2 separate regions of the Homo sapiens genome follow, and region 1 is linked to region 2. A link means that fine-mapping ties the variant in region 2 to the expression of a gene that starts in the linked region. Tissue or cell type: stomach. Region 2 holds a variant in brackets; the other region holds the start of a gene. All regions are shown on one strand. Distances are from middle to middle.

Region 1 (8,104 bases), 46 kb before region 2:
CCAAATTCCCCAGTACCCAGTGACACCCAAGTGAGACAGTGGAGCTGGGCTTTTCTTCCAGCCTTCCTCTTCCTATTGCTTTTCTCCTCTTCTATTCCTCCTACCTTTTAATTCATCCAACCATTATCACGCAGGAGATACAGAAGCTGGGGCTACAAATGTGGAAGCAAAAGACACCCCCGTTTTTTCTTTCACATTTTAATTGAAAGACAGTGTAATGCCATTACAGTACACTAAGTATACAGCCTGATGATTTCTTAACACGCGTATACCTGTGTAACCACCACCCAGATCAAGATATAGAACATTTCCAGGCCCCAGAAGACTCCCTTGTACCTCTTTAGTCAATGCTGCCACCCCCAGAGGTAAGTACTTCTTTCATCATGGATTACTTGCCTGTTCTTGAACTTCATATAAATGGAATCATACAGTATTTATCACTATACCTGTGATAATGCAATATTGTTGTGTGGATATGTGGCTAATTATTATTTATTTATTTTTTTGAGACGGAGTTTTGCTCTTTTTGCCCATGCTGGAGTGCAATGGCGCAATCTCGGCTCAATGCAACCTCCACCTCCCGGGTTCAAGTGATTCTCCTGCCTCAGCCTCCCGAGTAGCTGGGATTACAGGCATGCGCCACCACCCCGGCTAATTTTGTATTTTAGTAGAGACGGGGGTTCTCCATGTTGGTCAGGCTGGTCTTGAACTCCCAACCTCAGGTGATCCACCTGCCTCAGCCTCCCAAAGTGCTGGGATTACAGGCATAAGCCACCGCGCCCAGCATGGCTAATTATTTTTATTGCTAAGTAGTAATCCATTAAATTGACGTATCAAAATTTCTTTATCCATTCTCTTGGTTACAGACATTTGGATTATCTCCTGGTTTGGACCGTCATAAATAATGCCACTGTGAGCATTCTTGTACATATCTTTTAGTGGACAGATGTTTGCCTTTCTTTTGAACAAACAGGAGTAGAATCTCTAGGTCATAGTACAGGTTTATGTATAATTTTATAAGAAATTGTCAAACTTTTTTCCAAAGTGACTGTACCACATTATACTCCCATCAGCAGGGTATGAGAATTCCAGTTGGCACCATGTCGTCCCATTTGATGCTGTATTTTTATTTTTGGTCATTCTAGAGGATGTGTAGTGGCAATGTCCTTTATTTTAGGATAAGAATCAGCAATAATAAGAAAAGAATCTATGTAGCAATTACCTTGCCCTTTGTTTATACAGAACAGTTCCAGCTCCTTTACTGGACTAAGATCGAAAACCCCAACTCTCATTGCATTTACCTTACCCCTTCCTATCTCGGGGGTTGTCTTAGTCCATTTGTGCTGCTGTAACAGAATAGCTGAGACTGCGTAATTTACAAAGAAATGTACTGCCTTACGGTCTGGAGGTTGGGAAGTCCAACATCAAGGTGCTCACATATTTGGCGATGATGAGTTCAAGATGGTGCCTTGGACACTGCATCCTCACCTGACAGAAGGTAAAGGGCAGGGTGGTGGAGGGTGGGGGTGGGGGGAGAGAAAGAAAGAGAGAGAGAGAAAGAGAATGCAAGCACATGCAGAATCTCTCCATGAACCTTTTACAATGGCATTGTTGACGAAGAGTCAAACTCTGTAAAATATTTGAAGAGATTTACTCTGAGCCAAATATGGTGACCAGTGGCCCCTGACGCAGCTCTCAGGAGATCCTGAGGACATGCCCAGGGTGGTTAGGGTTCAGCTTGCTTTTATACATCTTAGGGAGACATGAGACATCAATCAATACATATAAGATGTATACTGGTACAGAAAGTTTCCAGGTTATAGGCAGATTTAAAGATTTCTGATTGCCAATTGATTTAAAGAGTTATTGTCAATAGAAAGGAATGTCTGGGGTTGTGGAACTCAAGGTTTTACCAAGCAGATGAAACCTCCGGAGATAACAGACTGTAAATGTTTCTTATCAGACTTAAAGAGTCTGTTCTATCACTAATTCTAGAAGGGAGGAGGGTATAATGAGGCAAGTCCAGCTTCTGCTTCCCATCATGGCCCGAACTCATTTTTCAAATTAACTTTGGAATGCCCTTGGCTGAGAGGAGGGGTCTATTCATATGGTTGGGGGGTGGGGGGCTTAGAATTTTATTTTTTGGTTTACAACATTAATCCATTCATGACAGCAGAGCCTTATGACCTCCATAAATCCCATTAGACCCTGCCTCCCAACACTACTGCACTGGGGAGTAAGTTTCAACATGAATTTTGGAGAGGATAAAAACATTCAAATCATAGCAGGGGTGTTTTTCTTCATCTGGTTTCCTGACACCTTTAGGTCAAAGGTATCTCTCTCATTTGAGTTCCCTCTCAAAAGTGAACAGAGCTACCTCATCTCTCTTTAGAATATGAATTCTAGTCTTATTTTATATGAACATTGAGGTTTGTGTAGCAGGTATTTGGTGATTGCATATCTTAAAACTTGGCTTCTGTACTGTATGAGACTATCAGTTACGATACGAAGAAAATAAAAAGAGAGTAATACAATTGAGAATTAGGGAGATGAGTCACAGCTGGCTGTTACCAGGATGTGACATCTGTGCTGTGATCTGGATGAAAAAAAGAAAACCCTGGGGCTGTACAAGGAAGAAGATTCCAGGAAGAGGAAACAATACGTACAAAGGCCCTGAAGCAGGAATGGACTTACCCTGTTTGAGGAGTGGCTGGGGTCCAGAAATGGGCAGGAATGACAGGAGATGAGCTTGAGGGACTGAGGTGGGGTGTGGGATAGGACAGAGGCCAGTCCTGCTGAGTTTTCTAAGCTGTGAGCTGGAATTTGGATTTTACTTTAATTACTTGGGAAGCCAGTGCAGAATGTGAGGCAAGGACCTGATGTGAGATCCTAAAAGTGCCCTTGGCTGCCTGCTGGAGGATGAGCTGTAGGGGGCTGGAGTGGAAGTGGAGAGACACTCTCTTCTTACTTCTGTCACTCTTCCTTCTCCAGCCTCTCTTTCTCTGCTTGATCCTGAGATGGAAATTGTGGCTGTACCATCCATAGATTGCTTTCCTCTCAGTGCCCACTCTGACTGGGTTCACCTTCCTGCCAGCTGGGGCCTGTCCCAACACCTTGCCCCTTCCACCTTACCTCTCTCATGGTCCTCTCCCTCGAATTCAGCCTGTCCTACTTGAAATTTTCCTCTCCCTTGAATTCAGCCTGTCCTACTTGAACTTTTCCTCTCCCTCTGAAAGGGCTACTCCCCTTTGCCCACCCACAGTGAGTGCCAACACCACCCAACAACAAAAGCCCAACCCACAGGCCAGCTTTTTAAAATGATCCTCCATTACTAGTGGAAATATCTTCAAAATCTCTCTTGCCCACTGCTCACTCAAGTCTAGCTTCCTAAATGGCCATGCTTTCTTTGGTATCACCACCTACAGTCCCTCAGTCCCTTTTTTTGAGACAGAGTCTTGCCCTGCTGCCCAGGCTGGAGTGCAATGGCTTGATCTCGGCTTACTGTAGCCTCCGCTTCCCGGGTTCAAGCGATTCTCCTGCCTCAGCCTCCCAAGTAGCTGGGTACAGGTGCCCTCCACCAAGCCCGGCTAATTTTTGGTATTTTTAGTAGAGACGAGGTTTTATCATGTTGCCCAGACTGGTCTCGGAACTCCTGACCTCAGGCGATCCACCTGCCTTGGCCTCCCAAAGTGCTGGGATTACAGCTGTGAGCCACCGCGCCCGGCCCGTTTTTGTTTGTTTTAATGCCGGGTCTTGCTCTGTTGCCCAGGCTGAAGTGCAGTGGTGCGATCATAGCTCACTGCAACCTTGACCTCCCAGGCTCAAGCAATCCTTCCACCGCAACCTCCTAAGTAGCGGGGACTACAGGCGCGCGCCATCACACCGGGCTAATTTTTGTATTTTTTTTGTAGAGATGTGGTCTCGCTATGTTGCCCAGGGTGGTGTCGAACTCCTGAACTCAACTGATCCTCCCGCCACAGCTTCCCGAAGTGCTGGGACTACAGGAATGAGCCACCGCTCCCGAACCGCTCCATGCATATCGATAGAGGAAAACTCACAGGGTGCGTCGCTGGTAACCCATGCTCCCATAAAGCCTGGCCTCTGGAAAGAGACTTGGGAACGAGCCCTGACGTTCTCAGCCGTCGAGCTTCACAGAGAAGGGTAGCTCGAATTAGGTTCCTTATCTTAAAGAGAATAACAGCAGTCACTTTCTCACAATCTTGCGAACGCCAAATGGAAGGATCCCTCGAGAGCGCTGAGAACTCGCCGAGCTCCTCCCGGGAAACCCGGTACCACGAGGCGCCATTTTGCGGATGGGCAAACCGAGGCCCGCGGGGCCGCGACTTACCCAGGCCTTTTTGCAGTGGGAGGCGACGGTGGAGGAGGGTGGTCTGGGACCGGGACAACAAAGTCCATCCTGCCGCCGGCTTCGACGCAGGTGCCAGAAAGGTCCCAACCCCGCCCAGGCAGGGCGAGGCGGCGCGGCCCAGGAACCTGTCATGGCGGCGCCGCTGCCCGACGCCGGAAGTGCCCGCCTGGAACTACAGCTCCCAGCAGACCCCGCGGCGCGCTCCGGTCGACGCCGGGGAAGCAGCCGCCATTGTCCGCGGCTGAGGTGAGGCCTTTGCTCAGGCTGTGGGGCCGCCGTAGCTGCGGGGCTTGGGGGGTCAGGAGAGCCGGCTGGGAGAGGCGGCGTCAGGGTGGGTCCTGCGCCTGCCCTTTCCGCGCCGGCTTTGCGCCGTCGTTGCCGTCGGTTCTCCAGCCAGCAGCCTGCCTCCGGCCTCCCGCCTCCGGGCGTTCTTCGTTTTCTGGTCGGACGGGCCTGGGTGAACTCTGCTGCACGTCGGCTCCGCGGGCCTTTGTCCCCGAGGCCGCGCCGGGAGCTCCCAAGCGCACTCCTGGGCCGGACCTCGGCGCGGGACAAAAGCCAAACGCCCCAGGCGGGCAGACCCCGATCCTGCTGCGCCGCCTTCAAGGGGGACCGCCGGCCGCGAGCCAGGTGAGGCCGGGACGAGCTTTTGCAGCGTCGCGGCCGCGTCGGTCTTGAGGAGGAAATTTGGGTCGGGAGCTCTGGAAGCAGGTGATAAGGATGCTTCTGAGGCCATTGATGGGACGAATAACCCCGTTCGTTCCCCAGCCGTCGTTTCTCCCCCTGCCAGTTCACACAAAGCACTGTGAAGGACGTCAGACCTGGGTTGGAAACAGCTCCGGGTTCCCTTAAACATGCAGTGACGGCGGCGGTCACTGTCAAGTTGCAAATAATGGTGCAAAGTACGGTTTGCATTCTGCGTTTTCGCGCTGATTCCGGTGCTCCTGAGGCCCACTGTGTGTTCTAGTGCTTTATACACATACCCAGGAATCCATTCGAGAGGTTGCTGACTTGTACAAAGATCTGGAACCTGAGGAGTTAGGGGTCTGGGCGCCAGGCCCATCTCTAAGTCCTCCACACACACACAAGCTTAGGCTTAGTAAATCTTGGAGGTGAATTTTTTTTGGAGGTGGGATTAAATTTGCATAACATAATGTTCACTTTAAGCACTTAAAAGTGTGCAATTCACCGGTTTTATTGTATATTAATAAAGTTGTGCAATCATCCCCATTATCTAATTTTAGAACATTTCATCACCCCACAAAGAAACCCTTGTTCCCCTTAAGCAGTCACTCCCCATTTCATTTTTCCCCCAGCTCTAGGCAACCACTAATATATGAGGATTGCAAGTTGATTTTACAATAATTGTCAGATTAATCCAAAAGTTCCATCTGTGTTGTGACTGGCTGTCTCTTGGGAATAGCTGACAAATTTGTACCCTCTCATTCAGGATCATGCTCTTTTTTCCAGCTTATGCAAATTACCTTTCATTTCTCTCCAGGAATTGTGTTACTTTTTTGACATGTAAATTCTCTTTTCTTACGATGCTCCTTACAAGTTTTTTTGTTGCTTCGGTGGATGGATTCCCTTCTTTGTTCCCACTTGGTCTTCTGTGAGAAAGGACTAGTTTTGTCTTTTTTCACTTTTGTCACTAGGTTGGGATTTGCTGTGTTCCTGGGCAGGTGCCTGGTCAATCAGTCCTCGGGATGGCAGCCATCAACCCGTGGGCCTCCTGGGGTGAGTCCAAGTTGTGTTTCTCCTGGGCCTCCCCTATCATTAGCTGCTGCAGTCATGGGTCAGAGCTGGTGATGGGCTGAGGACTTTTGAGGATGGAAGGGGGTCTGTCTATCTTGGTACAAAATTAGAACTGATTGGTGGTAAAGGAGGAAAATTGTTGGCATAAAAGACACTAACTTTTATGTTTTATAGTCATCTCCTGAGAGGTGTCATTAGTTTTAAGGGATTTTTCTGGTGGTTTGTGGGGTTTCCTAAACAACAGTGATACATATAATAAAATATTGTCTCTACTGCTCTCATATATATTTTTACCTTTATTGTTTTTACTTATATAGCATTGGTTGGTAATTTTAAAACGGTGTTAATTAATAGTGACTCACCTGTGCATTGCCTGTGTGAATCCAGCTTATGTTGCATTTTTTTTACACACCCTTGGGCTCTGTTTATGGAATTTTGTAGTGCCCATTAGCGAGTCAGCCTCCTCTTGTATTTTGTCGCCTTGAATCACTAGGTTTGGTGTCACAGTCCTAACCTGATCCTTCTGTGCAGGTGCCCTTACGGACCAATCTTGGGGGATGACAGCTGTTGACCCATGGGCCTCCTGGGGTGAGTCAAGAGCCTGGTCAGCTGTGGGCTGCCATATTGTGGCCTCTGGCTGTAGTGCTCTGCCACAGCTGGGGAATAGAATGGGGACCAGGTGGGGCTTTAGGGCAGGTGGTCCAGATCTGTCTCTGTGCAGAGCTGGAACAAGGAGGAATCAGAAAACTAGTGGCCAGGCGTGGTGACTCACGCCTACAGCACTTTGGGAGGCCGAGGCGAGTGGATCACGAGGTCAGGAGATCGAGACCATCCTGGCTAACACGGTGAAACCCCGTCTCTACTAAAACAAAATACAAAAAATTAGCTGGGCGTGGTGGTGGGCGCCTGTAGTCCCAGCTGCTCGGGAGGCTGAGGCAGGAGAATGGCGTGAAGCCAGGAGGCGGAGCGTGCAGTGAGCCAAGATCGTGCCACTGCACTCCAGCCTGGGCGACAGAGCGAGACTCAGTCTCAAAAAAAAAAAGAAAACCAGTGAGCAGTAAGGTGATGGTGACATCTCAAGATGCATGAGAATTCATGTGTGGCCGTTTAGGGTTCAGGCCCAGGAAGGTTGTGACCAGACACTGCTTCTCAGAGATGGTACCCAATAGCACAGGGGGGGCCAATGAGAGATTCATGTGTTTAGGTACTTTCCTAACCTTCTCTGAGCCCTAATTCCTTCATCTATAGAATGAGGAAGTGGGTCTCTTTCCTCATTCAAGGGGGAGGGGCAGGGGCTGGTTCTCAGCCCCCCAGAAGAAAAGGTGAGCTCCTGGCAGCGAGAGCTGCCTCCATGACTTTTTTCTCGTTTCCTAGCTCTGTGTCCTCAGTATCCTGCCTGGCACGTGGAGGGAAGCCTGGAGGAGGGGAGGAGGGCCACTGGGCTCCCAGCAGCCCAGGTTCAGGTGAGATGGGGCTGTCCTGTTCCCAGAGGATGATGTCCAGGTTATCCCTGGTCATCCCAGTTGATGCGGCTCTCCAGTTTACAACAGTTGGAGTTTGGGTAGGGAAGGAAGCAACTGGAAGTTAATCCTTCCTGAGAGCAGGTAGGGAGAATTAGGCCGTTTTTAGTGATTCGGAGCCTTAGTGTCAACCAGTCTGTCCACAGTACTGAGCTCCAACTCTCCCTGGCTTGTTGTGGGGCATGAAGGGCAGCCCTTTTGGCTGGCAGCCCCACTTCTCTATTGCCACCTTCACTCATGTCTTTAGCACCCGATTTAGGCTGATGCTGTGCAGTGCCTGCTGTGCCTGCTGTGAAGGGAACAAGGACAGGTGTGAGCCTTCACCCTGAGGAGCTCCCAGACCCTTTTCCAGGGTTATTCACTCAGCTAAGGAGATCTCACGGCCTACCTGGAGCCACACGTGCAGTGTGGGACAGGAGAAACCTGAGACGGGTAGGGTAGGCCTGCAGGAGCACAGTCA
Region 2 (8,104 bases):
TTGTATTTTTAGTAGAGACGGGGTTTCACCATTTTAGCCAGGATGGTCTCGGAAGGCAGCTATGCTCACCACTATACCACCAACGCTCGGGTGCCAGGATGGTCTCGATCTCCTGACCTCGTGATCCGCCCGCCTCGGCCTCCCAAAGTGCTGGGATTACAGGCGTGAGCCACCGCGCCTGGCCTGTGGCTTGGTTTTCAAAGGCAAAGATAAGTGGGAGTTAAGGGAGTTTGAAGTAAGAGAGACAAATATTCACAGCCACACTTACGGAAATGAACCTTTCTCATCAAATCTTACAGAGGGGTGAACAGCTGTGGGGTTGCTCAGTTCCTTTTGCAGGGCAATTCCACGGATCTAACAGAGTTCAGGAAACAAACTTTTCCCAGCACAAAACATGTTTCCGTTAAACATACTCATTACCGTGATGTTATCCTGCATTCAGAACACAGACACGCAGATGTTTCACCTGCACCATCTGTCTCCATCTGACGTGAAAATGGGATCCAGACCCACAAAATAGAGGTCACTACCCCAGGGTAAAATTTCCCAGCATGCCATGCCCACCACAGACATGTTCTGCTGTCCTTGTGAGAAGAGGATGAAATTGATTATTTAAAACTGATTTTGTAGAAGTTCTTTTTTTTTTTTTTTTTTTTGAGGCGGAGTCTTGCTCTGTTGCCCAGGCTGGAGTGCAGTGGCATGATCTCAGCTCGCTGCAAGCTCTGCCTCCCGGGTTCACGCCATTCTCCTGCCTCAGCCTCCCGAGTAGCTGGGACTATAGGCACCCGCCACCACACCCAGCTAACTTTTTGTATTTTTAGTAGAGACGGGGTTTCACCGTGTTAGCCAGGATGGTCTCGATCTCCTGACCTTGTAATCCACCCACCTCAGCCTCCCAAAGTGCTGGGATTACAGGCATAAGCCAATGCACCCCGCCTGTAGAATTTATTTTATTTATTTATCTTTTTTTTTTGAGACAGAGTCTCCCTATGTCACCCAGGCTGTAGTGCAGTGGCGAAATCTTGGCTCACTGCAACCTTTGCCTCCTGGGTTCAAGCAATTCTCCTGCCTCAGCCTCCCGAGTAGCTGGGATTACAGGCGTGCACCATGACCCCTGGCTAATTTTTGTATTTTTAGTAGAGACGGAGTTTCACCAGTTAGCCAGGCTGGTCTCGAACTCCTGACCTCAATTGATCCACCCGCCTCGGCCTCCCAAAGTGCTAGGAGTACAGGTGTGAGCCACCGCTCCTGGCCTTTTTTTTCTTTTTTCTTTTTTTTTTTTTTTTTGAGGCAGAGTTTCACTACGTCACCCAGGCTGGAGTGCAGTGGTGCAATATCAGCTCACTGAAGCCCCAACCTCCTGGGCTCAGTTAATCCTCCCACCTCAGCCTCCTGAGTTGCTGGGACTACGGTGCATGTCACTATGCCGGGCTCATTTTTGTTTGTGGTTTCTTTTTGAGATGGAGTCTCGCTCTGTTGCCCAGGCTGGAGTGCAGTGGTGTGATCTTGGTTCACTGTAACCTCCGCCTCCTGGGTTCAAGTGATTCTCATGCTTCAGCCTCCCGAGTAGCTGGGATTACAGGCACATGCCACCACGCCTGTCTTATTTTTGTATTTTTAGTAGAGATGGGGGGTCTCACCATGTTGGCCAGGCTGGTCTCGAACTCTTGACTTCAAGTGATCCGCCCTGTTCAGCCTCCCAAAGTCCTGGGATTACAGGCATGAGCCACTGCGCCGGGCTAGTTTTTGTATTTTTAGTAGAGACAGTTTTCACCATGTTGCCCAGGTTGGTCACAAACTCCTGGGCTTAAGAGATCTTCCCGTCTTGGCCTCCCAAAGTGCTGGGATTATAGGTGTGAGCCACTGAGCCCAGCCTAGAAGTTCTGAGATTCGTGGGTACCTGTTTAAAAAATTCTAGAGAGAAAACTATAGAGAGTGTAGTGTGTGATTCAGACATACTAACCATCCTCACATGGACTCACTCTCTAAAAACTCCAGACATAGCCAGAAAGAGGCAGAACAGCCACAGCAGGAGAGATCACTGATGCTCACTGAGGCAGAGGACTTTGTCATAACCTGTAGAAAACATTTTCCCAATGTCTCTTTACCACATTGGATTATAAATTTTCTACATTCTTCTTCTTCTTTTACTGGGCATTTATACAACTTGAATACAAAATATGGGAAAATAATTTTAAAATTTAATTTTCACCATCCTTGTCAGACAAATAACATTCATTATGAATCCTCTGAAAATTCCACTGTTGGTACCTCTATTTTTCCAGGCTTTTTCCCTCACCCCTTTTGTCTCCATTTTTATTCCTCACTTATTACTATCTCAATAACATCATTTCTACATTTTAGTTATTATATCAAAAAGAAGCAAAAATATTAAGAAGAAACTGAAGGAAGAGCAAAACTCAGTAACAGAAAACAAAACAAAGAATGCGTCACATAATGGAAAAATGGAAGACTTGTGAACGCAGACGACAGAGGTGCCGGCTGAGGCAGAGGAGAAACTATGGGGGTGCTGGGAGACTGAGCCTGTGGGCGTGGCTTGCTCCCAGAGAACCTTATGGAAGAGGACATCAAAGAAAGAAATGCCAGACCTGTATCCCAGAAAATAAAGCCACATGATATAGCAACTCTTGCTTATTGGCTCTCATAGTTGATGAATAATTATAACTTAATTGGAAAATAGAATAGAATCCAACTTTGTTAAGGGTTAAGAGAACTTGTCAGGATTTTCTTCTCTTGCTCCTGACCAGAAATACCGCACAAGTAGTTTTGGGGGGCCATCTCCCAGACTAGCCAGGGAATAGCTTTCATGAAGCAAAACTTTCCTGGTGAGATTACCTGTCAGCTCCATACCTTGTTTCCTTTGTACACATGAGGAAACTGAGGATGTTAAAATAAATATGACTCCGGATTAAAACACACTCATCATTAGTCAGGCATGGTGGCATGCGCCTGTAATCCCAGCTACTCAGGAGGCTGAGGCAGGAGAATCGCTTGAATCCGGGAGGCGGAGTTTGCAGTGAGCCGAGATCGCGCCACCGCACTCCAGCCTGGTTGACAGAGCAAGATCCTGTCTCAAAAATTAATTAATTAAATAAAATAAATAAATAAAATAATTAAATAAAATAAGTAAAACACACTCATCCAGGCCAGTCATGATGGCTCATGCCTGTAATTCCAACACTTTGGGAGCATGAGGCAGGCAGATTGCTTGAGTCCAGGAGTTCAAGAGCAGCCTGGACAACATAGTGAGTCCCCGTCTCCACACAAAAAAGAAATACACACTCATCGCCGTCAGGTTCCAGCTCTCTTGAGGGAAACAGGCCCACAGGCAAGGAGCTAAGAAACACGGCCAGAGGTAGCAAGTGGACACCAAGGGCTGTGGGAATGCAAAGAGGCAAGAGTGAGTGAAACG[G/A]TGCGGCTGTTTTGGAAAACAATCTGACGGTTCCTCAGAAAGTTAAACATAGAGTTACTGTATGACCCAGCAAGTCCACTCCTAGGTGTACATGCAAGAGAACTGAAAACACATGTACACACAAAAACCTGCACACTAATGTTCTTAGCAGCACCATTCATAAGAGCCAGAAGGTGGAAACAACCCAAATGTCCATTAACCAACAAATGGATAAACAAAATGTGGTCTATCTGTACAATTAAATATTTTTCAGCAACAAAAAAGAATGAAGTCACTCTGGGAGGCCAAGGGGGCAGATCATGAGGTCAGGGGATCGAGGCCATCCTGGCCAACATGGTGAAACCCCGTCTCTACTAAAAATACAAAAATTTAGCTGGGCGTGGTGGCGGATGCCTGTGATCCCAGCTACTCATGAGACTGAGGCAGGAGAATGGCGTGAACCCGGGAGGCGGAGTTTGCAGTGAGTCGAGATCGCACCACTGCACTCCAGCCTGGGCTACAGACCGAGGCTGTCTCAAAAAAAAAAAAAAAAGAAAAAGAAAAGAAAAAGAAAAAAGAGTGAAGTTCTTACGCACACTACAATATAAACAAACTGAAAAACATTATGCTAAGAGCAAGAAGCCAGACACATATTGTGTGATTCTGTTCTTTAAAAATGGCCAGAATAGGAAACTGTATAGATGCAGAAAGTAGATTGGTGGTTCCAGGAGCTGGGGCAGCAGGAGGGGGAAGACTGCTTGTGGGTACGAGGTTTCTTTATGGGGAATGAAAATGTTAGAGGCTGGGCACAGTGGCTCATGCCTGTAATCCCAGCACTTTAGGAGGCTGAGGCAGGTGAATCACTTGAGCTCAGGAGTTTGAGAACAGCCTGGGCAACATGGCAAAACCCCGTCTCACAAAAAGTACAAAAATTAGTGGGGCATAGTGGCATGAGCCTGTAGTCTCAGCTACTTGGGAGGCTGAGGTGAGAGAGGATGACTTGAGCCCAGGAGGTGGAGGTTGCAGTGAGCCAAGATTGTGCCACTGCCCTCCAGCCTGGGCAACAGAGCCAGACTCGGTCTTAAAAAAAAAAAAAAAAAAAAGAAGAAAAGAAAAAAGAAAATGTTAGAAAATTTGATAGTGGTGATGGTTGTAAACTTTGTGAATATACAAAAAGCACTAAATTGCATATTTTATTATTTTTTATTTTTTTGAGACAGAGTCTCCCTCACTCTGTCACCCAGGCTGGAGTGCAGTGGCACGATCTCGACTCACTGCAACCTCTGCCTTCCAGGTTCTGTTTTTTTGGTTTTTTTTGAGACGGAGTCTCGCTCTGTTGCCCAGGCTGGAGTGCAGTGGCGCGATCTCAGCTCACTGCAAGCTCCGCCTCCCGGGTTCACACCATTCTCCTGCCTCAGCCTCCTGAGTAGCTGGGACTACTGGCGCCTGCCACCATGCCTGGCTAATTCTTTTGTATTTTTAGTAGAGATGGGGTTTCATCGTGTTCGCCAGGATGGTCTCGATCTCCTGACCTCATGATCCTCCCACCTCAGCCTCCCAAAGTGCTGGGATTACAGGCGTGAGCCACGATGCCTGGCCCTCTGCCTTCCAGGTTCAAGCAATTCTCCTGCCTCAGCCTCCCAAGTAGCTGGGATTACAGGCATCCACCACCAGGCCCAGCTAATTTTTATATTTTTAGTGGAGACAGGGTTTCACCACATTGGCCAGTCTGGTCTTGAACTCCTGACCTCAAGTGATCTGCCCACCTCAGCCTCCCAAAGTGCTGGGATTACAGATGTGAGCCACCACTCCTGGCCTGAACTGCATACTTTAAAAGAGTGAACTTTGCACTAAATGAAATAAATCTCAGTCAAGCTGTTAAAAAAAAAACATTAGCCTGGGCCGGGCATGGTAACTCACGCTTGTAATCCCAGCACTTTGGGAGGCTGAAGAGGGTGGATCACGAGGTCAGGAAATCGAGACCATCCTGGCCAACATGGTGAAACCCTGTCGCTACTAAAAATACAAAAAATTAGCTGGGCGTGGTGGTGGGCACCTGTAGTCCCAGCTACTCAGGAGGCTGAGGCAGGAGAATCGCTTGAACCCGGGAGGCAGAGATTACAGTGAGCCGAGATCGAGCCACTGCACTCCAGCCTGGTGACAGAGTGAGACTCCGTCTCAAAAAAAAAAACAAAAAAAAAACCACAAAAAAATTAGTCTATGTTGAGGATGAACTGAACTCAGACTCAGGTCTTCTAACCCTTCCTTTCAGTTTCCATCTTTCCTAAATTAAATTTTAAAAATTAGAACAGACAATGTGAGAAGGCAAAAGTCAGTGTGTATATTAGAAATTGGGACAGTGCAAAGCATTTCTCAAGCCGACAGCTTGGTCCTGCCTGCACAGTGCAGCCAGTAGGAATCACACATGGGATGGGCAGCCCCGGGGGCACAGGACAGAGCGGCCAGGGCACTGTACCAAGGCACAACTCCCAGGTCCTGGACAGGCCTCCATGTCCCTCCCTGCAACTTCAATCCTTGAGGCAAGAGCCATGCCCAGCCCTTGAGGCTCTGAGATCAAATCCTAACTAGGGAGACACTAGCCTGCAAGACTGCAGTTTTAGTTAGCTTGTCTGCCACAGATTGTGTGGCCTAAACAACAAACATGTATTTCCGACAGTTCTGGGAGTTGTAAGTCTAGGATCAGGGTGCCAGTATGGCTGGGTTCTCCTGAGCACCATTATTCCTGAGAGAGAGAGGAAGCTCTTTTCTGTCTCGTCTTGTAAGGGCACTAATCCCATGCATGAGGGCTCTATCCTCATGACCTAATCACCTCCAGAAGGCCTGTTTCTAAATACCATCACATCAGGACACATGAATTGATGGCGGGGAGTTGGGGGGGGATACGTTCAATCCATAGCAACTGCTTTTAAAAACATTTTACTATGCCACAAATATTTGTTGGGCAGCATGTTCCTATGATTGACAATGTGGCAAAGCATGTGTGGATATTTCTCAGCAAAGATCGCGACTTCTAGGGAACCTCTCTAGAAGGCACAGTGTGTTTTAGGGGAGACACCAACCCCAAGAATGTCTCTGCCAGTGCCACCTGGTTTTGCCCACAATTCAAAGCTTTCCTGGGAGCCGGATGAGGGGCAATGGAACCAGCAGATGCAGGGGTAAAATCTATTCCTTCATTGATAATTCTCAGAGCAATTCTATTCCAGGGTCCTAAATCAGATGAGGTGCCCAGGCTGGGCATGGTGGCTCATGCCTGTAATCCCAGCACTTTGGGAGGCAGAGGTGGGCGGATCACCTGAGCTCAGGAGTTCCAGATGAGCAGCCCAGAGAGAGGGAAGACAGGGAGGAGCCTCCTGCATGCCTTGGTGGCTCTGGAATCCACCAGGGACTATAGACTGTGCATGGTCCTCCAGGCAGTGGTAGCCAGCATGGTTCATGCTCCAGTTCTAGTTCTGCTGGGAACATGCCATGCCATACCTAGCCTCCAGCGTGGACAGACTGGGCTGCTTTGTAGCAAATATCAAGTGAACAAGGAAGGGAAGAACATGGATCTTCGTGGGCAGATGTCTATTAGCAAAAACTGCAATGGGAGGCAGAATTATAAGATGGCCCCAAGATTCTCACCCCTCAGTGCACTCAGTTGCCTAATTTCCTTCCATTGAGTGGGGGCTGTGAATCTGACAGACGTCACTCTTGTGATTAGGCCAAGGCAATAAGATACTCCCCCCCTTCACTGTTCTATAAGACTGCCTCAGCACACGGGAGCGAGATCCTCCTGCTGTGAGAGGGCCACGCCACGGGCCCCTAGCAGTTGAGATGGCCCCCAGCAACAGCCGACAAGAAACTGGGAACCTCAGAGCTCTTTCCTTTAGCTGCTGCTGCAGCCGAAGCCATGAGTATGCGCAGGCTTCAGAAGAGGCTCACCTCTCATGTCCTTTGCTGTGGCAAGGAGAAGGTCTAATTGCACTCCAAGGAGACCAGTGAAATCACCAATGCCACCTCCCATCAGCAGATCCAGAAGCTGATCAAAGATAGGCTGAACATCCACAAGCCTGTGACTGTCCATTTCCGGGCTCGATGCTGGAAAAATGCCTTGGCCTGCTGGAAGGGTGAGTACATGGACATAGGTAAGCTAAAGGGTATGGCCAATGCCTGAATGCCAGAGAAGGTAACTTGGATGAGGAGAATGAGGATTCTGCACGGGCTGCTCAGAAGATCCCATGAAGTTAAGAAGATTGACCACCAAATGTATCCCAGCTTGTACCTGAAGGTGAAAGCAAATGTGTTCAAAACAAGCAGATTCTCATGGAGCACATCCTCATGGAGCACGTCCACGAGCTGAAGGCAGAAAAGGCCCAAAAGAAGCTCCTGGCTGCCCAGGCTGAGGCCCACAGGTCTGAGAACAAGCAAGCACACAAGTGGCTGAAGAGTACACTCAGGCCAAGAAGGAGGTGATATCAAGACTTTGTCCAAGGAGGAAGAGAGAAGCAATAAAAGCTCCCCCTTTCTTGTCTGTACATACTGGCCTCCGTGATTACATAGATCAGCCATTAAAATAAAACAAGACGGCCGGGCACAGTGGCTCACGCCTGTGATCCCAGCACTTTGGAAGGCTGAGGCGGGCGGATCACGAGGTCAGGAGTTTGAGACCAGCCTGACCAACACTGAGGAACC

What was found. PIP is the estimated chance that this variant, and not a neighbour inherited with it, causes the effect.
Region 1: ZNF606-AS1 starts here. The variant in region 2 is fine-mapped to the expression of ZNF606-AS1 in stomach (GTEx, PIP above 0.99). The same link has a PIP of 0.9 or more in esophagus muscle, ileum, left ventricle, subcutaneous fat, sun-exposed skin and transverse colon.

The regions. Positions count from the first base shown.
Region 1 is chr19:57,999,291-58,007,394 of GRCh38, reverse strand. ZNF606-AS1 (ZNF606 antisense RNA 1) reads right to left here and starts at 4,501. Exons shown (of 4, transcript NR_036508.1): 1 at 4,349-4,501; 2 at 4,059-4,184; 3 at 2,695-3,012; 4 at 189-1,488. It overlaps ZNF606 (zinc finger protein 606), which reads left to right and starts at 4,575. Exons shown (of 7, transcript NM_001348022.3): 1 at 4,575-4,999; 2 at 6,025-6,106; 3 at 6,656-6,712; 4 at 7,499-7,587. The coding sequence starts at 6,076. RefSeq lists an enhancer at 4,224-4,643.
Region 2 is chr19:57,952,978-57,961,081 of GRCh38, reverse strand. It overlaps C19orf18 (chromosome 19 open reading frame 18), which reads left to right. Exons shown (of 6, transcript NM_152474.5): 6 at 2,365-2,645. The coding sequence ends at 2,480. It also overlaps the pseudogene RPL19P19. Among named protein-coding and RNA genes, the nearest start is that of ZNF256, 9.3 kb to the right of the region's middle. RefSeq lists a silencer at 5,963-6,130. The variant G/A (reference allele first, on the strand shown) is at 3,434.